Homo sapiens: one gene and its partners. The protein of the gene in region 1 interacts with the protein of each later gene in a pairwise test. Each region holds a gene or a part of one and is shown on either strand. Other genes may lie near its edges.

Region 1 (7,039 bases):
CTCTTCAAAAGTTTCTTACTTGATTGACTAAAAAAGAGCATGCCATAATTATCAAGAAATATTTTTGAAACAGCTATGAAAAAAACATGAGAGCAGTGGGCAAATAAGAGGGGAAAAAAGCCACTGGTGTACTCTATACACACTTTTTAAGTCCTTGAGAATATTCAAGGGTTAGCACAATTTCCTATCTTAGTAACAAATATATGAACTTTAGAAAGAATGATGTATTTCAAACAAAATCCCTTAGTACATTAATAAAGATCAGATTAAAAACAGTGAAACATTTACCTTCCCACTCAAACTCATTACTATTCTCTGACGGTGTGTCTAAGCCATCTAAGTCAATCTCCCCACTTTCATCCAAATCATCTGACAATACAGAGCCATCACTAGGATCCAGTGTCAGGCTAATGTCTGGAGCCATTAGTTTCTTTCTCACTTTATTTCCATTAACTTCTAGTGAGCCTGGAATTGGAAAATAAAGAAAAAGATACGTAACAAGGAATGCTTAGATGCTAAAGTTGAATAAGAAAAATTTTAACTACCCCATTCTTGGGAAAAAATAATATTAATTGAACATAATTTCAAAGCACCTATTCACAAAATTTTTATTCTGATCATTATTGCTTCTACATCGTTGGCAAGAGATCAATAAAGTATCAATGTCTTTTAAATAGAGGCAGACCTTATAGATACCTCTTACCACTAAAAATGATCTCCTCCACCCCTTTACTGTAAAACTTTCCAAAAACCAAGTGTATGTTTTTGGAATTTTTTTTAAAGCATTCTAAAAATGCTTTCCTCAATGTTCAACTTATACTTTGACTTCTATGATGGAATAAAAACTCAAGTTTTTTTTTTTTTTGGACAAAGAAACGTGTTTTAAAAAATAACACAAAGTCCATAATTTCAATGAAAGTAAGTGTCAAGCTCTTACCAGGCTGGTCCTCTGGTCCAGTTATAGCTAGTATATCTGCTTCAATACTATCATCTTCTGGTAAAGGTCTAGAAGACACAGGCATACTTTTTAATCCAGAAATTAAGAAAGAATTTTTTTTTGAAGTTCAATCTATTAAACATACAGCTTATAGAAATAATTATTTGGAAAATGGAATAAAGCAGTGTTGTTGTTTTTGAGACAGGGTCTTGCTGTCTGTCACCTAGGCTGGAATACAATGGCACAATCATGGCTCACTGCAGCCTTAACTCCTGGGCTCAAGAGATCCTCCCGAGTATCTAAGACTACAGGTGCGTGCCACGACGCTTGGCTAATTTTTAGTAGAGACAGGGTCTTGCTATGTTACCCAGGCTGGCCTTGAACTTTTGGGCTCAAACGATTCTCGTGCATTGACCTCCCTAAGTGTTGGGATTACAGGCATGAGCCACTGTGCCCAGCCTAGCAGTGTTTAAGATAAAGTCTCAGCCTTCTGAGTAGCTAGGACTACAGTGGCACACCAACATGCCCAGCTAATTTTAAAAGTTTTTTTGGTAGAGACCGGATATTGCTATGTTGCCCAGGCTGGTCTCAAGCAATCCTTCTGCCTCGGCCTCCCAAAGCACTAGGATTATAGGCGTGACGTGCTATGCCTGGCTACACTTTCAAAGTAAAAATTCTGACTGTCAGAGCTGACTTATACACTTATTATATATAAGTAACACATAAAAGTAGATATAAATTCCTTATGCAACAGCTCTTATACAATTATAAAACATGTAACAATTTTAAACAAATATGACTGAAATGCACAAATATAATGTGATGTATGATGCAATGTATGAAGCTCAATTTTTACTCACGAGACTACAGTAACAATGGTTCAATTCTTCTGAGATCAGCATTCCTATATTTACTATCACCACCATATGCAACAGTGACTCAGGTCTCCGATCAGCTGTCCAACTGCTAAGCTATCCAACTGCTAAGGCACCTGATTATGCACTAGGATGTCTTCTGACAAGTACGGCACGGAAGCACTATTTAAACTTAAGGTCTGCCTTTGCTCTCTTTTTCATTAGCCTACCTGGTGCCAATATAATTGTAAATACAAATGCAAACATGTCAAGGTGGCTGGCCAGATAAGCTAGAAAATCCTTATTAATTTACTTAGTAAGGTTTTTTTTTTTTTGGTGGGGGGGAACCCACAAATTTTTTTTTTTTTTTTTGAGATAGAGCCTTGCTCGGTCGCCCAAGCTGGAGTGCAGCAGCGCGACCTTGGCTCACGGCAACCCCTGCCTCCTGGGTTCAGGTGATTCTTGTGCCTCTGCCTCCTAAGCAGCTGGGACTACAGGCGAGCGCCAAGCCTGGCTAATTTTTTGTATTTTTAGTAGAGACGGGGTTTCACCATGTTGGCCACGTTGGTCTCAAACTCCTGGCCTCAAGTGATCTGCCTATCTCGGCCTCCCAAAGTGCTGGGGTTACAGGCGTGAGCCACCGCACCTGGCCACAAAATTAAAGAAACATTTTAAAGACAACTAAAGACCTCCTTCTCTGAGGAATCCCTCAGATCTTGTTTAAATGAAAACAAAAACAAAACAAAACAAACAAACCACACTAAAACACTTTATTATAAAAGCAAAAATTTGCAAACTTAAGTGACCAAAACAAAAATGAAAGATTATAGAAGATTATATATATACTTGGTTGGAAAGTAAGATACAAGAGAATCAATCTAACTGTTCCGAAGAAACTTTACTTCCTAGTATCAAATGATCGCCTTGTATTACTGAGTTTCTCAGTGACATCTCAGCTGTGCAGTGGCTCACACCTGTAATCCCAGCACTTTGGGAGGCCAAGGCAGGCAGATCACGAGGTCAGGAGTTTGAGACCAGCCTGGCCAATATGGTGAAACACCGTCTCTATTAAAAATACAAAAATTAGCCAGGCGTGGTGGCGCACACCTATAGTCCCAGCTACCTGGGAGGTGGAGGCAGAAGAATTGCTTGAATCCAGGAGGCGGAGGTTGCAGTGAGCTGAGATCGCGCCACTGCACTCCAGCCTGGGCAACAGAGCAAGACTCCGTCTCAAAAAAAAAAAAAGTAACATCTCGATAAAGAAATTTTGAACTTTTGCTCTAAAATTGTTTTCTTTTAAAAGCATTGCTCACATCGGAAAATCTTCATCTTGCCATTCTTCTTTAAGTTCCACACCTTCCATCCTCAGCCTGGATTCAATGTCAACTACAAACTCTTGATAATCCAGGGAGCCAATGTCCTATGAAGAGAGAAAAATGTATAACTTAATTTCCACTTTACTTTTTATCCACTGAAAAGGCGTAATAATCTTATATATTAGTTCATACTTGATGTTTAGTACAATGGTCTGGTCATGAAATTCATTTACAGGGTTGCAATTTTTTTTTTTTTTTAAAGAAAAGAGAATACTCAGACTACATATATTCTGGGAAAGTTAAATACTGTTTATAGTAAGGATACTGTTCAGTGAAAATACTTGTTTTCAGTTGCATGTATAGTATCTCAGGTTATGATTGAAAATATATTTCATACTATGGATTATATTAAAAAATTTGAAGTGGGGTAAGAAATAAAAATGTTCTTTATTACAGACTCATAATTAAATTTTCTGTCCCTTGGATAGAGGTTGATTCTAGACCGTAAATAATAGTAAATCAATAATATTTAAACTCATGATTCAGCAGAGTCAGGTGGTGTGCTGTCTTTCATATTTCCTTCTCAATAGTTTGATGCCACAATTCCTGAGCCACTTAAAGAAGTCTATTCAATAACTTGTCCCGTAAATGAATTATGCAATCTTTTGATTTGTTTCATATCTATACTATGCCCTTCTCATATAGCTCGGCATATGTTTTCAAACACTGAACTTGGTGAATGCCCTTTTATGCAACTACGTATTTTAACATATGCCATGAACTTTAGTTTTAGTTTTTCCAAGGAATCACGTGAGTCCAATATCCTCATTTTAAAAGTAAGAAATCTAGAGATACTCCCTCTGGTGATGGAGTAAGAAATAGAAGTTGAGGTAAGGTAAAGATCAACTGGTTAACAATGCAACAAAACAGTGAAAACTATAGAAGGAAAGAGGTATACACGAGTATTTAGTTCATTTACATTCAAGTCAATAGATGTCTAAAGTTATTCAACAAACAGCAGTAACATATTTCTGTTCTTTTCTTTTCTTTTTGCAGTAACATATTTAAGAGATACGGAGCATCACTAGCAGTACTAAAAATAAAGTTAAAAGTCGTTGACACTAGGCCGGGCGCGGTGGCTCACGCCTGTAATCCTAGCACTTTGGGAGGCCGAGGTGGGCGGATCACTTGAGGTCAGGAGTTCAAAACCAGCCTGGCCAACACGGTGAAACCCAGTCTCTACTAAAAATACAAAAACATTAGCCGGATGTGGTGGCAGGCGCCTGTAATCCCAGCTACTTGGGAGGCTGAGGCAGGAGAATCGCTTGAACCTGGGAGGTGGAGGTTGCAGCGAGCCGAGGTCACACCATTGCACTCCAGTCTGGGTGACAGAGCAAAACCAGTAGCAGAGGAAAGAGGGTGAAATGCAGAAAATGACTAATGCTTTTCATAGTAAGTCCGTCTATACCATTTGATTTTTAAAACAATACTATCTGTGACTTTAAAAGATATTTATTAAATAAAATCAATTATGTCAGCCATTCACATCAACCAGTCTTCTAAAAGAAAAATGTGGTCATGTCCTATAGCTATCTTATCTGCTACGTCAACATTCAAAAGATGCACAAAGTTACAAAGAAAAAAGCCTTATGTTCCGTAATGACAAAATTACAATGGAAATATCCTGAAGTGTTAGATTTCACAAGGTAAACTAAATTTGTATCTCTGCCAAGGCTGGAAGACTCTCTTCCCAGTTTGAATTTTTACTTACCCTCAAGAGAAGGTTTTAAACATTCCCAAAAGGTTTCAATGTTTGATGATACACTTGTTACCACAGAAAAAAAATGGTAGATGCTGACTTTTCCACACCAACTTATTTGCTTGAAAAAGTCATTTACATATAGGAGTAAGGTTTTTAATTCTCTGGGAAAACAATGATCTAGGCAGTTTTTATAAGTTAATGAAAAACATTTAAAATAATCTTTACTTATTTAGCACTTTCTCTGTTGGGAGGGAAAAATAAACAAAAAGAGGGACACCTACCTTACCAAACAATCCCCTCTGTTTAGAACAGAAATAGTAGAAAGGAGCCCACAATTACAATCAACAAGCCCAAATGGTGAAAATACTTACTACTCTAGAATTACAATGCTCAAGTGAGACCAAAGCATGCTATGACTAAAGGCTGAAAACTGGTAAGTCTTTTCTAGATGTTTAATTTACTGTATTTCCCAATGTTTAACTTTTCTTAAGTCTTTGGTACTCACTCTAAAGCGAATGATGTATTTTCCTAAATTCAATAATCAGAAAAGCTTTCTATTATCTTGTCGTACCTTTTTATTGTGTGTTGAAAAACACACCAGGATGTTGTCTGGGTGTCTTTTTCAAATATCTCAAATACTCAGAAAAATATTTAGCATTTCAAAAATAAAAGCAGAAACTGAAAGTTGTACCCAATATATTCCCAACACCTACCATGGTGCCTAGCACATAACAGGCCTATAAAAATTAAGTAAATAATACTTACCTGTAGGGTATGGACACTGGTCAGCAAACCTTTGCTCAATCTCTTAGGCTTATTTTGCTTATTAAACTACATGAATAGGATTTGTCATGTGTTACCCCATAAAAATGTAACAAAAATATTCTGTGGGAAACTACACACCAGCAATATTAATTTCTATTTGTAAAATTGTTCCTCACTGGTAAGAGGAAAGGTTTATCTTGGGAAATTCTAGAAGACAATCCATTCCTTTCAGCTGCTTAACCAATGGAACAAGTTTGTCTCTGTGAAAACAGCTCCTTGAGGCCGGACGTGGTGGCTCACACCTGTAATCCCAGCACTTTGGGAGGCTGAGGTGGGCGGATCACCTGAGGTCAGGAGTTTGAGACCAGCCTGACCAAGATGGTGATACCCCGTTTCCACAAAAAATACAAAAAATCAGCCAGGCGTGGTGGCGCCTGCCTGTAATCCCAGCTACTATGGAGGCTAAGGCAGGAGAATCGCTGGAACCCCAGAGGTGAAGGTTGCAGTGAGCTGAGATTGCACCACTGCACTACAGCCTGGGTGACAAAGGGAGACTCTGTCTCAAAAAACAAAACAAAACAAACAACAACAAAAACTAAATAGCTCCTCGAAACACAGGCAGCCCAAGTCTTTCAGCTATCTCAGCCTATTTATTCCATTTTTACCTTAATATCATATTGAATCATGTGTTAATACCTCAGCACATAGACATGGATATTTAGTTTGAGGATAATCAATTATCTAGTTAAACAGAACTTGGGGAGAGAGATATAGATAGATTTACTCTACCATTTCATCATGAATTTTAGGGGAAAAGTACACTAGGTAGATCAAAACAATTTAAACAATTGAGGGAGTACTGTTTCTTGGAAGCACTTTATCATCAAACAGCTGTTAAGAACAGGAAACAAACAAGAAAGGAGTTAATATAACCACAACCTCTTCGAAGAAAATCAGGATACTGCTGACTCACAAGTTAACTGTTGTTGCTTCCCATTTCTTGTTCATGTATTTTTTTTTGGAAATTAGAATGGGAAATAACACTTTAAGATGATATTTGTTAAAATAACCTGTTGGCACAGGAATAACTTGATTTCTCAATAGATTGACTCTTGGTAGTGGTGGCACATCCTTATGCCACTTACTTGTTGCAGTCATAAAGATAAATTCAAAACAGTTGTTGACCTTAGGTTAAAAATCAAAGAGATAATTGATTCCTTCTGACATAGCTTCAAGGGGGAGGAGTACTGGTAAATCCAACCAGGATGAAGCAGCTTTCCCCAGGCAGTTTAGCAACATAAGCAAAAATTAAATGTTAAGATCACATTTAGGCCAGGCTCAGTGGCTCACTCCTGTAATCCTAACACCTTTGGAGGACAAGGTGGGAAGATGGTTTAAGCCCAGA
Region 2 (3,557 bases), on another chromosome or scaffold:
GCCTGGCCAACATGGTGAAACCTCGTCTCTACTAAAAATACAAAAATTAGCTGGGTGTGGTGCGCTACTGTAATCCCAGCTACTTCGGAGGCTGAGGCACAAGAATCACTTGAACCTGGGAGGCCGAGGTTGCAGTGAGCCAAGAACACACCACTGCATTCCAGCCTGGGCAGCAGAGTGAGACTCCATCTCAAAAATATATATATTTATTTGTTTGTATGTATGTATGTATGTATGTATGTGTGTGTGTATTTTTTTTCCAAAATAAACACTTAAGGAAATGTCTTACTTTTTAAAAACCTTCCAAACTGTCCCTAGACCCATGTGAAACCCTAAGTCATTTAAAAGAGAGGACTACATGTCAGGTTAGGTCCCCCAAAACATCTTTAAGTGCCTATAATGTGTGCTACACACTGAGAATTCAAATTAAAGATACGGTTTTTTCTTACAGTTCTACAGTCTTCCTTTGGCTTAAAGACTCCTGGAAATACAGACATGAGTAAGAGACAACACTAGATTTATTAAAGATCATAATGCTATCATTTATTGAAGAAAGAAAGCAAAAAAAACTAACAATTGTGATGGGGGAGGAGAGACAGCTTGGCAACATTCCTTTTAAAGTTAAGTTAGCATAAAGAAAACAATATTTAGTAAATGAAATAGATTTTCAAGGTAGGAAAAGTAGTACTCAAGAATGTATTTTTGGATACAAAAATTCAGTTACACAATCAGTAGCATTCAAAATTAGTTATGAGTATTTATACAATTACAAAAATGGATTCATGTTTTAACAACGTATTTTAAAAGCTCAAACATTTTAAAACAGGCACAATATTCTAAAGGCATATGCATTCACCATGGGCTTTTGAATGTCCTCACTCCCAACTTCACAATCAAAATCTACAGAAGCGGCAAAAGATCAGAGTTCAGAGGGCTATTTTTTTTTTCCCTTTCCTTACTTAAGGTTGCAAACACATTGACAGAGGCAAAATAAACACGTTTCATAGCAGAAAGACCAAAAAATTGAATGTAAACCATAGCTCTCCCTTGGGAGATTACACAAATACAAGGTTCATCTGTACTTAGAACAAGGCTCATAACTTCTTGTAGCATGGACATTCAACAGGCACAGAGCAACAACATTCACCCAAATACCAGCTGCAATTTGTCCTTTAAGGATGCCTCACAAGGATATTATGTCCAGGTAGCTAGTCCATTTATATCGGGGACCAGTTGTCCTTTTGTTGTTTGTGGCTGTTTATTAAATGTAGTGGCACAACTTTGTTGTGAATATGTACCATCATTTGCTACAATCTAGACAGATCATCCTGTCTACAAAAAATCATTTTCTACATTTCTAAGACCATTATCAGTTTATCTGCTCCTGCTAGAAAAGGACATACTTTTTGTCAATTTACATTAACAAAGGCTCTGCTACTCCCCATTTACTCGCTGCAATGAAAACTGGTAAGCCAAGGGTAAAGCTTAAGTATCAGGGACTATGAATTTAGGGTAGAAGTGAAAATAACCAAAGTGGAACTAAATCCCCTATTCTTGAGTGCAACTGAGATCAAGTAAACTTCGCTGGACTTTCTTCTTAACTATAAAACTATTAACCAGAAGGTAAAGTCACACAATTTTACCTCCCAACAAACTTTTAAAATAAAAATTTCCAAAAAATTTAGATGTCTAGGTTTTGTTATATCTTACCAAGAGTTACACAGACATAAATTTGTATTTAACTTCAGTTAAACATCTATTCACTTTTTAAAAATGCTGTCTGCAAATAAACTACTGGACATCTTAAGCTTACTAAAAAAAACTTAAGATTTTTAAATTAAAAAAAAAAAACTAGGACAAAAATCTAGCAAATGGTTTCACGTACCTTTAAACACTGATTCTTAAAAATTTATATGCTGAAAATGAGGTTTGAGAATACGTATTTTAAACCATTTATAATCCTACCGTCGACTCTAGTCAGAAGTTATCTGAGCAAAGAGAAAATAAAGCCTGGCGTAGACAGTCCCATAGAAAATAGAATCCATAGCCACTGGGCTGCCCTTCAATTTCCCAATTCATTCCACTAAGTCTCATGATGCAAATCTGTCACTTTCATAGAGCTATCAAAAACAGAAGCCAAGCCAGATCCTCCACACTTTAAGATATGGTTCCTTATTATCTATTTTAACAGAAGTATCAAAAAGTGATTTTTTTTTTTATTTATTTTTGAGACAGAGTCTCACTCTGTTGCTCAGGCTGGAGTGCAGGGGTGCGATCTCGGCTCACTGAACTTCCACCTCCTGGGTTCAAGCAATTCTTGTGCCTCAGCCTCCCTCCCAAGTAGCTGGGATTATAGGCGCACACCAGCTAGCCTGGCTGATTTTTTTGCTGTTGTATTTTTTGTAGAGATGGGGTTTTGCCATGTTGGCCAGGCTGGTCTTGAACTCCTGACCTCAAGCGATCCACCCACCTCAGCCTCCCAAAGTGCTCAGATTACAGGTGTGAGCCACTGCACCCAGCCAAAAGGTAATTTTATTTGGAATGCATTTCATGATTTTATTTCTTGCTCCCTGAGCCTGCAGTGATTAGGGTGGAAGGGAAGTGGCACTCAGGCAGATAATTCACAAAGTCACCACACAAGGGTGATAGATGATCCACCACTGAGATAATCAACCCAGTGAAAATGCTACACTGGGGACCATGTTTTGCCCTTCCCAGACAAGACATCTTGAGCTAGGATCTGAGCTACGGCTATGCAGAGGAGCAGAACTGAAGGCTCCGTTTGAGCCCTTTCTGCAAAAGGGGATGCATTTCAGATAATGAGACAAGAGACGGGAGTGAGTTAGTACACAGCACGCCCAATACCCAACAAGCAGCCTCAGAGAGACTGGGAGAAGGGGGAGAGGGGACTGGAAGCCATCTCTTCTGTTCTGAAGGGCAGTGCTCCTCCCAAGACAGCACTCAGAGAGCCAACAGCCCAGGGCAGATCACGCCAGGACAGTGCTTCCATATGGCTGGCTGAGCACCATATTCCAATCTGCAAAAGAGTCACCTTATTGGTTCCCTTAACTTCCAAAATGCAGCAAGCCCTCCTTCACCCAGCAGTGAACGGAAGGGAAGGGAATGCAGGGCAGCAGGGAGACAGAGACCATCATTAACTACAGGTCTGAAACCCTAATTCTTTACTCACTCATCAGGTTGCTTTTAATCACTGCTGTTGCTTGGTAACAGGTTTCAGCAGATTTGAAATGGATTTCTTCCTCCCACAGTCTAACAAAAACAAGTAGGGAAACAACCAAAGAATAAGGCAACTTAAGGAAAAACGCAGGAAGACCCTGGGAGGCAGGGTCATGCAAAAGCTGCCAATGGTGTCCTGATGGGAGCTGTCTGAGCAAACTGGCCACAGGCCGTGAGTGAAAGCAAAGCAGAAGCCTTTCTACAAGACCCATCTCCTGCCAAGAACCCCTCCCTGACGCCTCCACTCGTGGGGTCTGGGATAGGCTCTTTACCTTCTCAGAGGATGGAGGCAATACCATTCACTGGGCAGTCACTGTGAA
Region 3 (7,039 bases), on another chromosome or scaffold:
GTGGCCCTTAGGATCAAGTCCAGTCTCCTAACCCTGGCTTAGAAGGGTTAGGAGATCTTGGTGATCTAGTCTCTGGCCACCACCTTGTTCTTTGCATTCCACCATGCTATTTTTTTCAGCTCCTTCAAGTGCTCTCTAGCTTCAGGGCTTCTCTGCCTGCGGTCCCCTTTGCCTGGAAAACTCTCTCTTCAGCTCTGTGTCTGGCTAGTTCCTATTCATCTTTCAGGCCTCAAGATAAATGTCATAGGTTCAATATTTTTAGGCCATCTTTGACTTCTTTCCCTTTCCAAACAAACAAACAAACAAACAAACAAACAAACAAAAAACTTCTCCTATCCGTCTTCCTGCCTCTGTCCCCATTGCTACTGCTATGGTCCAGGACTTGATTTTTTTCTAGTCTGGACTGCAGCCTTTTGTCTGCCCTTCAGCTATGGGTTTCTTCCCCTCCAATCCATTTCCCACACCTCTGCCAGAAATTTTTAAAAAGCACAATCACATAATGTTGTTTGCTTCCTCCAAAACCATCAATATTTTCCAACTGCTGACAGAATAAAGTCTGAACACATTGGCTTGGTATTCAAGGCCCTCACTGGCCTAGCCCCACGTGTCTTCCTAGCCTCATCTCTCAGTAGCCGTACTCACATTCCTTATGCTGCAGCCTAGTATTTCTCAAAGTGTTTCGTAGCCTAGTGTTCCCATGCCCTGTAGGGACATTAGATGATCCAAGGTGGTGTATGGATAAAAAGTTATTTTAATGCATAGAGAATAAAAGCAAATTCATGGTAGCGATATAAAATTTCCTGTTAAAATACATTAATTTAGGCTACAGAGATGACTTAATTTGAAGGAAAAGTATGTTAAGTAATAATAGCATAGGTGGTACACAGCTGTGGAAAGAGCCAGAAGATGGGACACAAATGGCTAAAGTATGGGAAACGGGCCCGACCACCTTTGTCTACTTCCCATTCCCTCAACTCACCATGTAATTCACATTTCTGTGCCTTTGATGATACTGTTCCCTTATTTTTATTACTCTCTTTCCAACTTTCTGCTTATCAAAATTCTCTCAGGCTTTATGGTTTAGCTCAAATGACACTTCCTTGTGATATCTTTGCTCATCTCCCGGTCAGAATTGAGGACTCCCTCTTCTGCACACTCCCAAGACATTACTCGTGCTTCTTTCTGGTTCTGGTTCATTTTGTTTGATGGTGTAATTAGTACCTCATATGTCTGTCTCTCTCCCTATCAGACAGTAAGTTTGGCCTTTAGCACAGTGCCAAACACAGAGAGATAGCTTATGATAAATGTTCATTACATTGAATTATAGTAAAGGAAGAAGTTCAATTTCACAATTCTCCAAGTTGCAGGTGAAAGTTAATAGGAAGAGAAACCGTATTCCAAACAAGGAAAGGCTATCTGAAGTTATAAGGTGTGCATGTGTGTGTAAGGATATAGGCAACGAGTTATTTCCAGTGTAAGGTGAAAACCTATAATTCTTATGGGTGAAAACATTATGTTTCATGTTTCGGGGCAATGACCTAAATCTGAATGTTGGCAATGCTTGCCTAATCTAGTCAGTTGGCTCAATGCCTTCAGAAATTTAAAAAAAAAAAACAAAAAAACAAAACAAAAAAAAAACAAAAGTAGTTTGTCAAAGAGGAATTTCTGTGGCTTTGTGATTACTTGTTGGATCCAAATAAACTATAAATATAAGAACTTGTAGGAGTGACAGGTAATTTAATAATTCAGTAAACATTGATGAGCCTACCTCATATGAAATCTCTATGTTAAAAGCCATGGGGACAGGGTTGGGAACTGGAAAGGGGAGGGTGAAAGGAGTAAATATGGAAATGATGAAAATAATGCAAGCATGGTCCTTGATACCATGTATTGACCATTTGTTGTGAAACAGCACTCTGTTCAGCACTTAATGTATATTATCTCATTTAATGTTCTTGCAGTCCTCATAGGTGGATAATTTTATTATCTCGTTTTACAGATGAAGAAACTAAGAATCAGAGAGATCATGTATCTTTACTCCAAGCTGTAGGAAAAAAAGTAGATAGCATTCATTATGTGCCAATAACTATTTTAAGTACCTCATGTGTATTAACTCACATTAATACGTGTGGAAAACAAAATTCCTGTCTTGGAGAAGCTCTGGGTTTCTTGTGAAAGATAAGGTTCAAAGTTGAATTTTGGAGGAAAGGTAGGATTTTTGTCAGATGGATTGGTAGAGGAAGGGTCCTCCATGCACAAAGAAGAGCCTGAACAAAGTCCAGGAGATGGGAGAGTCCAAGGCCTGGGAGTAACATCATTACCTGCAAAAACACAGGCAGCCTAAGGAAGCCGTGGTACAGGAGATGAAGCTGGGAAGGAAACTGGAGAGATTAGGCCTGATGCTGAAGGAAATGAATAGCCAGTAAAGGTTAGTAAGCAGAGAGCAGAAGAGTAGCATGATCGTGTCTGTTTCAGGAAGATAATCTGGAATAACTGTGAGAGCAAGAGAAACTATAGGCAAAGAGATCAGCTAAGAGTTTTGGCATTCAGATGAAAGCCAATGGGAACCTGAAATAGGCTACTATTTCACATACCAATTTGAAAGTCACCAAGGAGGTAGAATTTTTCAGCCCAACGCAGCTGAGTTGATGCTGGGGTGATGGAAGGGGATTAATGAAAGATGCCGTGATGGGGTATGTGGGAATGCTGGGAATGCATCAAAGTCTAGGCCAGGCATGGTGGCTCACTCCTGTAATGCCAGCATTTTGGGAGGCCAGGGCAGGAGGATCCCTGGAGTCCAGGAGTTCGAGACCAACCCAGGCAACATAGTGAGACCTCGTCTCTACAAAAAAATTTAAAAATTAACCAAGCATGGTGGTGCACACTTGTAGTCCCAGATACTCGGGAAGCTGAGGCAAGAGGATCGCTTGAACCCAGGAGTTCGAGGCTGCAGTGAGTTATGATCATACCACTGCACTCCAGCCTCAGCCTGGGAGACAGAGCAAGACTCTGTCTCCAAAAAAAAAGAAAGAAAATAAGAAAAAGAAAAAGCCTGTATCTGCTTTAGTTATCATTATTCTTCCTGAAGATGTAATAAAGTCAGTGTCTAAGGTGTCTGCCTCAGAGGAGTGGTTGTCACTCCTCTCTTGATCAAGTGGCAAGATTGACAAGGTTGGTAGTATCTTATCAGGTGTGGTGGTTGGGCTCCAAGTAGTCAATTTCGGTAGTTAAAAGGAAGAAAATTAACATGTATTGAGGATTTTCTCACCTCAAAGATCTCTGGAACAGTCTTGAGAGGCAGGTACTATGCTGTTTCTGTTATGGTACAGGGTGAATGACTTACTTGCTCAAGGTCACATAGAAAATAACAGAGACTCACTTGCATAAGGTCTCATAGCAAGTAAGTGACAGAACTGGTCTGAAGACTATGTTCTATTTTTATTTATTTATTTTGAGACAGGATCTCACTCTGTCACCCAGGCTAGAGTGCAATAGCGTGATCACAACTCACTCTAACCTTTACCTCTTAGGCTCAAAGGAGCCCCCCATTTCAGCCTGCACAATAGCTAGGACCACAGGCATGCACCACCATGCCTGGCTAATTTTTTGATTTTTTTTTTTTTCTGTAGAGATGGAGTCTCACTGTGTTGCCCAAGCTGGTCTCAAACTCCCAGGCTCGAGCGATCCTCCCACCTCGGCCTCCAAAAATATTTGGATTACAGGCATGAGCCACTGCACCCAACCTGTTCTATTTTTTACAGTACCAGAAACCAGAGAAAGAGGGCAGGCCCACACACCCAAAAAGGATGTCCAAGGGAGAGAAAAAAGAATAAGAGTGAATTTAAAGATTTCTGCTGAGGAAGAAGAAATCTGGAAGACCTTCAAGTTAGTGTCAAGCTTGGTCTTGCATGAAATATAATAATGATAAGAAAGGGCTCCTGTTCTCATGGAGCTTATTGGGTAGAGGGCACCAAAGATATAATGGCTGCTACCCAGCCATTCTTACAAAATGCTCTAGACTTTCAGAGGCGATATAGTCTTGGGTTGTCTGGAAAATGTTACAGAGAAGATATGACTTGAGTAATATCTAAAAGGAGGCGCTGTCCCTGGATAGTCCAGGAAGAGCTATCATGCCATCTTTCCACTGGCAGGAGTAGTGGGAGTAGTGGGAGCAGAGGTGAAGGAGTGGGAGAGTACATTTCCTGTTTGTTTAGTGAATAGATTGCCTGGAACGCAAGGCAATCACGTAGGGAAGAGTAGGAGGACGAGCTGGCAAGGGGTTAACACCAGAGAATGGAGGAGGGCTTTGAATGCCCAGTCTGATACCTTTATACATCATCACTTAGGCAATGGGAAACCACTGACTATTTTTGAGCAGGAGAGGGATGTAATCAAATATGCTTTTGAGGCGGTGGCTCACGCCTGTAATCCCAGCACTTTGGGAGGCTGAGGAGGGCAGATCACCTGAGGTCAGGAGTTCGAGACCAGCCTGGCCAACGTGGCAAAACCCTGTCTCTACTAAAAATACAAAAGAAATGGTCGGGCGCGGTGGCTCACGCCTGTAATCCCAGCACTTTGGGAGGCCGAGGCAGGCGGATCACAAGGTCAGGAGATCGAGACCATCCTGGCTAACACGGTGAAACCCCATCTGTACTAAAAAAATACAAAAAACTTAGCCGGGCATCGTGGCGGGCACCTGTAGTCCCAGCTACTCGGGAGGCTGAGGCAGGAGAATGGCGTGAGCCCGGGAGGCGGAGCTTGCAGTGAGCCGAGATCGCGCCACTGCACTCCAGCCTGGGCGACAGAGCGAGACTCTGCCTCAAAACAAAAACAAACAAACAAAAAATTAGCTGGGTGTGGTGGCACACACCTGTAATCCCAGCTACTCAGGAGGCTGAGGCAGGTGAATTGCTTGAACCCGGGAGGCAGAGGTTGCAGTGAGCCGAGATTGCCCCACTGCACTCCAGCCTGGGCAACAGAGTAAGACTCCGTCTCAAAAAAAAAAAAAAAAAAAAAAAAAAAAGATGCTTTTGAAAGACCTCCAGAAGTAAGCACTGGAATAGATTGGAGAGGGTGGAGATCAGAGGTTAGACGATCAGGAAAAAGGATATTGAGATAGTTTAGGGGGATGGTGATACAAGCCCGGAAGAGATGAGGGAAAGCCATCCTCTGAATGAAAGCTGGCTCTCAGAGGGGCTGTCAGAGCCACAGCCTAATTTTAAGGACATGAATATTTGTGTTCCAAATCTCCTCCAAGCCATTTTCTCGTTCCTCTCTTCTTGCTTCCTCCTTCCTTCTTGTCCCTCTGCCTTTCCTCCATTTTCTCTATTTCCTCCCCATTACTTCCAGTAATGCTCAGTAATCAGCTATGATTCTGAACATCATTTGGGAAGGAGGGGAAGCACTGAGGGAGGCTCTGAGCAAGATAGAAGGAAGGAAGGAAAGAAGGTGAGAAAGAAAAGGAGGAAGGAAAGATAGGCGAGAAAGAAGAGGAGGAAGGAAGGGAGGAAGGCAGACATTTCTGTAGGAGCATTTCCCATGGACCAGACTGAGAGGATGGGGATACTGAGACTTAGAGGGATTGCAGTACTTGCTTGGAGTCACATAGCTAATTGCCATCTAAGTCTGATGAACTCCAGAACTCATGTCCTGTTTGCCATTCCACGGTGATTCCCTTTCCTGTCTCCCCTGATCTGTTCAACTTATGTAATAATTTCTTATTCCGATACCCTAATATCACTTTGTCATGGCTCTTTCACTCACCACAGTCTGTCTTACATTATAGTGATCTGTGTATATGTCCAGCACTGGCACATAAAATGCGGACAATGATTGAATGAATGATTGGTTTATCTCTGTTACTAGATAGTAAGGAGGCTGCAAGGATCTCACAGCAAGGACAGCCCAAGATCATATCATTAGTATTTAATCTATAACTGTTGGATTGAACATATTTGAATGTCTTAGGCACCTCTGTGGGCATCACGCCCTGTTGGACACTGAAGCTACCTTGGTAACCTTCAAGACCCAGGATTTGTGTTGTAATTTCTAGCATAATCACTAAAAGAACAGAAACAAGATGTATAGCACCTAAACTAGAAGAGAAAGACAAATGGAATGGTAAAGCTAATCAGTCTAAAAGAAGTCAAATCAAATGGCCAACAGGCACATGAAAAGATGCTCAACATTACTGATCATCAGGGAAATGTAAAGCAAAACCACAATGAGATCATCTCACACCCATTGGGATGGCTATTATTTAAAAAACAGAAAATAAGAAGTATAGGTGAGGATGTGGAGAAATTGAAACTCTTGTGCACTGTTGGTGGGAATGTGAAATTGTGCAGCCATTGAGGAAAACAGGATGGCAATTCCAAAAAATAAAAATAAAAACAGAATTACTGTGTGATCCAGGAATTCCATTTCTGGGTATATATCAAAAGCATTGAAAGCAGAGTCTCAAAGAGATGTTTGTACATCTATGTTCATAGCAACATTACTCACAATAGCCAAAACGTCAAGGCAACCTAAATGTCCATCAATAGATGAATGGAAAACAATATGTGGCATATCCACACAAGGCACCGTATAACTCAGCCTTTCAAAGGAAATAAATTCTGACCCATGATACCACATGGTGAGCCTTAAAGCCATTATACTAAGTAAAATAAGCCAATCATGAAAGGACAAACACTGGAATAATAATTCCAATTATATGAGGTACCTAGAATAGGCAAATTCATAGAGACAGAAAGCAGAATGGTGGTTGCCAGGGGCTGGAGGGAGGGGGAATTAGGGAGTTATTGTGTAATGGATACAGAGTTTCAGTTTGGGAAGATAAAATTCTGGAGATGGATGGTGGCCATGCATTGTGAATGTACTTAATGACATGTACTTAGAGCATACTTAGAAATGGTTAAAACGGTAAATTTTATGTTCTAGGTATTGTACCACAATAAAAATAACTTTTAAAAATGAAGGTGAAAAAAAATCCCGTTTATTCTTTATTTTTATTTTTATTTTTTATTTTTTACTTTTT
Region 4 (7,039 bases), on another chromosome or scaffold:
AGTGCTGGTTCAACAGGTTTGGCTTGTATTATTCTTGAGATAGAATCAACAATATATTATTGCAGATATTAAATTTCAGACATAAATTTATTTATTCTACTAATATTTAACAAGCATCATCTATGCACCAGGCTCTGGGCCAGGTGCTTGAGATACAGTGGTAATCAAGATGCAGTAGTTGACCTCATAGAGCCTAGAAATATCTCTTAAGCAGCCGGGCGTGGTGGCTCATGCCTGTAATCCCAGCACTTTGGGAGGCCAAGGTGGGCGGATCACGAGGTCAGGAGTTCGAGACCAGCCTGGCCAACATGGTGAAACCCTGTCTCTACTAAAAATACAAAAATTAGCCGGGCATGGTGGCGGGCGCCTGTAATCCCAGCTACTCCGGAAGCTGGGGCAGGAGAATCGTCTGAACCTGGGAGGCAGAGGTTGCAGTGAGCCAAGATTGCGCCATTGTACTCCAGCCTGGGTGACAGGCAAGATTCCATCTCAAAGGAAAAAAAAAATGTGTGTGTGTGTGTGTGTGTGTATATATATGTATATCTCATAAGCTAATCTTTATAAAACTAATTTCAACCTTTTCTGTTAAAAAAGTAGACCTATGGACTAAGACAACTAATTAAAATTTTAAGAAAAGGACATCCCATAGATGCAGCAAGTAACTCCATGTCTCCAGAATTATCAGCACCTTCCTGTCAAAAGGTTAAAAAACTGACACTGATTACTGAAGTGATAGAGTAATCTGTTAAAGGGAACAACATACTGCTCACTGAAAGAAGAGAAGGCTCTTCAGGTAAATGGAAAGGGTTTTTATAACACACTCTTAGCATCTAAGATCAACAAACCCTTGCTTAACAGGAACTTAGCCATTCTTTATCTCATTTTTCACATGTTCCTATTAATATGGGTTTTACTGCCAAATACTGAATTGACTGATGCTCAGAAGAATCAATGACCTTTAGAGAGGGTGTTGGGGAAAGCAGTTCCCATCAACTAGCCCTGAGTCAGTTTGCTTCTAAGATTTTCCTCCAGTTGCCTGCCAGTTGACATCTGGGTAAAATGCGGAGGGTTGTTGCTCAGAGCTACAGACAGGATTATAAGGCATGGGAAGGTCCAGCTTGGAGTCAGAAGAGCACATGTTACCTCAGGTCTGAAGCTATGTTCAGTACAAAGTATTCAATAGAAAGAACTGTACAGTTACTATCTGGGGACGTGAGAGCTGGGAGAAGAGGAGGAACGTGAAAAATGAGACCAAGAATGGCTAAGTTCCCGTTAAGGAAGGGTTTGTTGATCTTAGTTGCTAACAGTGTGTTATAAAAACCCTTTCCATTTACCTGAAAAGCCTTCTCTTCTTTCAGTGAGCAGTATGTTGTTCCCTTTAAAAGATTACTCTATCACTTCAGTAATCAATGTCAGTTTTTTAAACTCTTGACAGCAATCTCTGCCCAGCTGCTGCTCTTCTCAAAGCGGCTATGTGGCTTGTTACTCACGCTTCAGGTGTCTACCTCACATTAAATATGGACAGATTTGACTTATTAGATATCTGTCAAATGAAGCTAGCATGGCTGGTTACGTTATACTATTTTAAATATTGAAGCGCTATCATATTTATGCAAATATTCTTGGAACTGATTGATAGGGAAGAAGTTTTCAAATTAAATGAATAAGAAAATGCTAATATGAAGAGGACGCATTGGAATTAAGATATTTACCCTGTATAGTTTTTACTCCTAATTTTATCTTTAGTTTGAGAGAGTAATGTATTGGAAAAATTCAATCTAAGAGATCATAAATTCTAAGAGATCACAAGACACTGGTTTAGATAGCTGGGAATAGATTAGCTTACCTTACTCAGTCCTAAGTATGTCACCATGGACATAACTGGTGCTGCCAATGCAAAGACCAGCAAGTGCTTTCTGATTCGATTCCGCTCTAAGCCAGCATGCATCAAGAAGGAAACCAGTCCAAAAGCAGCTGGTGCCTGGAAATAAAAAATCATCTCTTATTATCATTCTAGAAGTATGGGTTGCTTCTACATCAAGAAGTATATGCCATTTGACTATGATTTCTCATACAAAGAAAAACTCACAAAAGGCCAGGCACAGTGGCTAATGCCTGTAATCCTAGCACTTTGGGAGGTCGAGGTGGGTGGATCACCTAAGGTCAGGAGTTCGAGACCAGCCTGGCCAACATGGTGAAACCCCGTCTCTACTAAAAATACAAAAATGTGTGGTGGTGGGCACCTGTAATCCCAGCTACTTGGGAGGCTGAGACAGGAGAATCGCTTGAACCCAGGAGGCGGAGGTTGCAGTGAGCCGAGATCACACCATTGCACTCCAGCCTGGGTGACAAGAGCAAACTCCATCTCAAAAACAAAAAACAAAAAACCCACACACACACAAAAAAAACCAAAAAACAAAACCAGGCAGAGTACAAACGCTGAGCTATGCCTCTTAGGAATTAATGTTCTAAGCCAAGAAAAGATCCTATTTGTGTGTTTCTTGGATAGTAAAAAAGAGAAACAGTCAAGAAAAGAAAAATACTTTTGAACAGAAATTATTACTATGAAATATAAAAATCTGAGGAGAATTTGACAATTTGTGTATATGTCTACACAAAAAAATTGAAACCCCTCAAGGAAAAGCTTAAGAAAATGGGAACAAGAAGCTATGAACAGATTTATTCAATTTTCCAAAATGAATAGCAATTATGAAATGAAGAAAATGTTCCCATTCCAGGAAAAACATTAAGGACCATGAGAAATTTTAATTATGAATACACTCAATACCAAACCTTACACCAAAATGTTGCTTACCTTATGTAGCATGATTGCCACAAACACAATTAACTGGACACTGGTCTGTGAAGTAGATGCTGCTGCTCCCAAAGCAACACCATCAGCTATATTTGGAAACAAGGAAACATAAAATACTATAAACAACAACAACAATAACAGTGTAGTGGTTGAGTGTATGAGCTTTACAGTCAGGTCCAGCTGGATCTAGTAATGTTACTTAACCTTTCTACATGCCAGCCTTATCTTTAAAATGTGTTCAATGAAGTATGTATTTCTTAGGGTTTTCATGAGGATTAAATGAGATAACTTATGTAAAGAGCATAGCATCTGGCCCAGAGTATTCAATGTTAGTTATTTTGGTTGCTGTTGTTGTTATTGGAAAACTAACATTCAATTTTCCAACTAATCAAAAATCCATTGATTAGTTAATCAAATTCTAACAAGGGAAATACCAAAGAAGAATTTCAAAGGAAGCATCTCTTAATCTTATAGGTTAAGAAACAAAATAGTCCCAGCTACTTGGGAGGCTGAGGCAGGAGGATTGCTTAAACCCGGGAGGTGGAGCTTGCAATGAGCCGAATCGTGCCAGTGCACTCCAGCCTCGGCAACAGAGTGAGACTCCGTCTCAAAAAAAGAAATAAATAAAATAAAGATACTAGAACTCTATATAGATGATTACTACTTAATAAGTAAACACTGGTTGAATGAATGAAATTTGTTAGAAAAGCATATTATACTTAGAAAGGGCCAGGTAACAGTGTACCACCTTTCACATGCCTTTCTTTGCCACTGACAGAATTCTATTACTAGGACTAGGTTTGGGTTATGATTCTAAAGTGTACCCTGTCAGCAATGCTAAGATCTCTGCATTCCACTGCATACCACTTCTGCTTAAACTGGTGTTTTGCATATAAACTGGTAACAGAGCTGTTCAGGACAGAAGCGCCAAGGCTCTTTTCCAGATGACATTCTAGAGCCAAGAATGAAAAGAGCAAACTTCTTCTTAAGAGCTAGACAGTAAATATTTGAGGCTTTGCAGTTATTTGGTCTCTTGCAACTGTTCAATTCTGCCACTGTTGCACAAAAACAAAAGAGATGGATCATTGTCATTGTCTATCTCTTCCTCAGCCTCCTGCAACTTTATCTTCATTCTAACATCAGTCACATTTGCCTTTCTCCATTTTTTATTGCCATCACCCTAACCTAAATTTTCATCACTCAAACAAACCTAAATCAGCAATAGGTTCCCTACTCTCATTTTTCCCTAATCAAATTCACTGTCACAAACAATACATAAATACATGGGCAAGGCTGTGTTCCAATAAAACTTCCTTAATTTGAATTATATAATTCTCATGTGCTACAGTATGTTCCTCTCTCTCTTTTTTTTTTTAAACCATTAAAAAGTATAGAAACCATTCTTAGCTTGCAAACCCCTGACACTGAGCACACCAAGCTTGTGCTTGTGTTGGAGGACTTCATTAAGAAACCTTTTCCTCAAAGGCCAGTCCAAGAGCATTCAATGAGGACGGTCCCTGAAATATAAACACTAAGGTCTCCCCTGTGCGATAGAAAACAAAGAAGTTCCACTGCAATCCAACCCTACCTGCAGCATGGACAACCAGACCCAGCGTGGTGGTGATTTTGGAATTGCTAGACCTTGCTGCTTCTGGATCTAAAGTGAAAATGAGAAAGACAGCGTTAAGCTATGTGAGACAGAAACTGTTCAAACATTGGTCTGGAGGTGAAAGAATTTCACTAATGTTGGCCAGGCTGGTCTCAAACTCCTGACCTCCAATGATCCGCCCGCCTCACCCTCCCAAAGTGTTGAGATGATAGGCGTGAGCCACCGCACCCGGCCACTATCTTTTTTCTTTCTGCTTCAAACCCTTAGAAGATTTCCCTGTCCTGAAGAGGTGGCTAAGAGGGAACTCTTCATTTGACTCAGCCCTACCTTAACAGAAAAATCACTGAAATGTGTAACCCCCAATGGCCCCAACTTCCTCCTATTCCTTAATCCTCTTCCTCTACTATTCCAAGGAAAGTGATCTATGGCCTCTGATCATTTCTTTCCAGACCAATCTAATTGTCATTGTCTATCTCTTCCTTAGCATCCTGCAACTTTATCTTCATTCTAACATCTGTCACATTTTTATTGCCATCACCCTAACCTAAATTTTCATCACTCAAACCTAAATTAGCATCAGGTTCCCTACTCTCATTTTTCCCTAATATAATTAATCTTACACATCCGTGTCAGATTCATCGTTTGAAAACACCACCCTTGGCCGGGCACAGTAGCTCACACCTGTAATCCCAGCACTTTGGGAGGCCGAGGCAGGTGGATCACCTGAGGTCAGGAGTTTGAGACCAGCCTGACCAACATGGTGAAACCACGTTTCTACTAAAAAATATAAAAATTAGCTGAGTATGGTGGCGGGCGCCTGTAATCTCGGCTACTTGGGAGCTGAGGCAGGAGAACTGCTTGAACCCAGGAGGCAGAAGTTGCAATGAGCCGAGATTGTGCCATTGCCCTCCAGCCTGGGCAACAAGAGTGAAACTCCGTCTCAAAAACAAACAAACAAAAAACCCACCACCCTTATGATGTGTCAGTTACCATTTAAGAATCTGCTGCTTTTCAAATTCAGGGCAAACTGCTATATTAGATAGGTTCTTAAGCCCTTTATCAACTAGTTCCAACTTATTTCTCAATGTCCAGTCTAGTTAAACCAGTTTGCTTAACACCATCGAACAAAACCTTCTTATTCTCCTTTCCCCAAGTCTCCTCACCTGTAATTCTTGGCACATACTGAACTTCTCAGCTTGTTAAGCCAAAACTTGGACATCAATCAAAGTCTAACTACAGAACCACTTCCCTCAAGAAAGAATAAAAAATTGAAGACTAAGCATGGTGGCTCATGCCTGTAATCTCAGCAGTCTGGGAGGTCGATGGGGGAGGATCACTTGAGGCCAGGAGTTTGAGACCAGCCTGGGCAACATCACAAGACCCTATCTCTACAAAATTTTTAAAATTTAGCCAAGTGTGGTGGTGCATGCCTGTAGTCCCAGGTATCTAGGAGGTTAAGGTGGAAGGATCACTTGTGCCTAGGAGTTTAAGGCTGCAACAAGCTATGCTCATGCCACTGGACTCCAGCCCGGGTGACAGAGCAAGACCTTGTCTCAAGAAAAATTAAAAATAAATTTAAAAAATTGATTCCAGCTCAAAGCAACTCTCCCCTTGCCTAGACCTAGTGATCTATGCAGGCAGTCTTCAAAGGTTCCTCTATACACCACCTCAGATATACAAAGCCATTTTCACTTGAATGTTTTCTATCCCCAGATGGACTGTAAATGCTAAAGCATTAAATTTTCTACCTCTCTTTTCCTTTAACATGTCTGACAGAATGTAGCACAGCACTAGGCACCCAATAGTTACTTAATAAATCCTTGCTGAAGAGTGAAAAAAGCATTTATGTGTATTAAATAAAGATGTTACTGCTCTTGTAGGAAACATACAAGTAAATAAAGTTAAAAGATGGGGACATCAAAATGCCAGGTAAAATGACAGATGAACATCAGTCAAGTAAGTTACAGGGGATTTAATCTTCTTAGGAGTCCAGCATACAAAAGGAAGGGGTTTACAATGGAAAAAGTATACAAGTAAAGTAAGATATTACCTCTTATTAATAAATGATATTTTCCTATTAAAACACTGCAAAGAAGGGAAGCTAAAGACCCTAATCACTCTGCGCCAGCAAATAGCTCAATGCTACCCTGAACTGGAAGGAACAGTCAAATTACACTGTGTGCAAGCTGGCTCTGGCCTTTTTTTATACAAAGGCTTATCATCCAGTTATACTTAGGATCTTAAACAATTAGAGGCTTTAAAATTAGAAAGTTTTTATAAACCTATAAAGACTGCAGTTTAGCATAAATTTAATAAATACATTTTATTGACATTTTATAATACATAAAACTCTGCAGAAAATAGGTAAAACCAGGTCATCAGACACGAAAGCCAGCAAAAATAATGACTTCAGAGATAAAACAGGAAGAAGAATAATGGAACACAAGCTACATTTAACTCTCTGTATAGGATTACTGGCTACTACTGCGCCCACACATTTTATTTTTATTTTTTTAGAGACAGAGTCTTGCTTGTTGCCCAGGCTGGAGTGAAGTGGTGCGATCACAGCTCACTGCAGCCTCGAACTGAAATGATTCTCCCTCGCATCTCAGCCA

The links.
Region 2: the proteins of BNIP2 (region 1) and SFT2D2 interact in binary tests that used the Homo sapiens proteins (3 or more experiments, as listed by UniProt).
Region 3: the proteins of BNIP2 (region 1) and DGAT2L6 interact in binary tests that used the Homo sapiens proteins (3 or more experiments, as listed by UniProt).
Region 4: the proteins of BNIP2 (region 1) and SLC39A9 interact in binary tests that used the Homo sapiens proteins (3 or more experiments, as listed by UniProt).

What each region holds. Positions count from the first base shown.
Region 1 is NC_000015.10:59,679,304-59,686,342, forward strand, and holds part of BNIP2 (BCL2/adenovirus E1B 19 kDa protein-interacting protein 2), read right to left. Parts: intron 3,212-7,039; 5' UTR 3,155-3,211; coding exon 3,105-3,154; intron 1,006-3,104; coding exon 938-1,005; intron 466-937; coding exon 289-465; intron 1-288.
Region 2 is NC_000001.11:168,249,986-168,253,542, reverse strand, and holds the end of SFT2D2 (vesicle transport protein SFT2B), read right to left. Parts: 3' UTR 522-3,557; downstream 1-521. UniProt on the Homo sapiens protein: May be involved in fusion of retrograde transport vesicles derived from an endocytic compartment with the Golgi complex.
Region 3 is NC_000023.11:70,180,454-70,187,492, reverse strand, and holds part of DGAT2L6 (diacylglycerol O-acyltransferase 2-like protein 6), read right to left. Parts: intron 1-7,039. UniProt on the Homo sapiens protein: Diglyceride acyltransferase that uses fatty acyl-CoA as substrate. Particularly active with oleate as a substrate. Has no wax synthase activity to produce wax esters.
Region 4 is NC_000014.9:69,450,674-69,457,712, reverse strand, and holds part of SLC39A9 (zinc transporter ZIP9), read right to left. Parts: intron 4,473-7,039; coding exon 4,404-4,472; intron 2,902-4,403; coding exon 2,816-2,901; intron 1,982-2,815; coding exon 1,847-1,981; intron 1-1,846. UniProt on the Homo sapiens protein: Transports zinc ions across cell and organelle membranes into the cytoplasm and regulates intracellular zinc homeostasis. Participates in the zinc ions efflux out of the secretory compartments.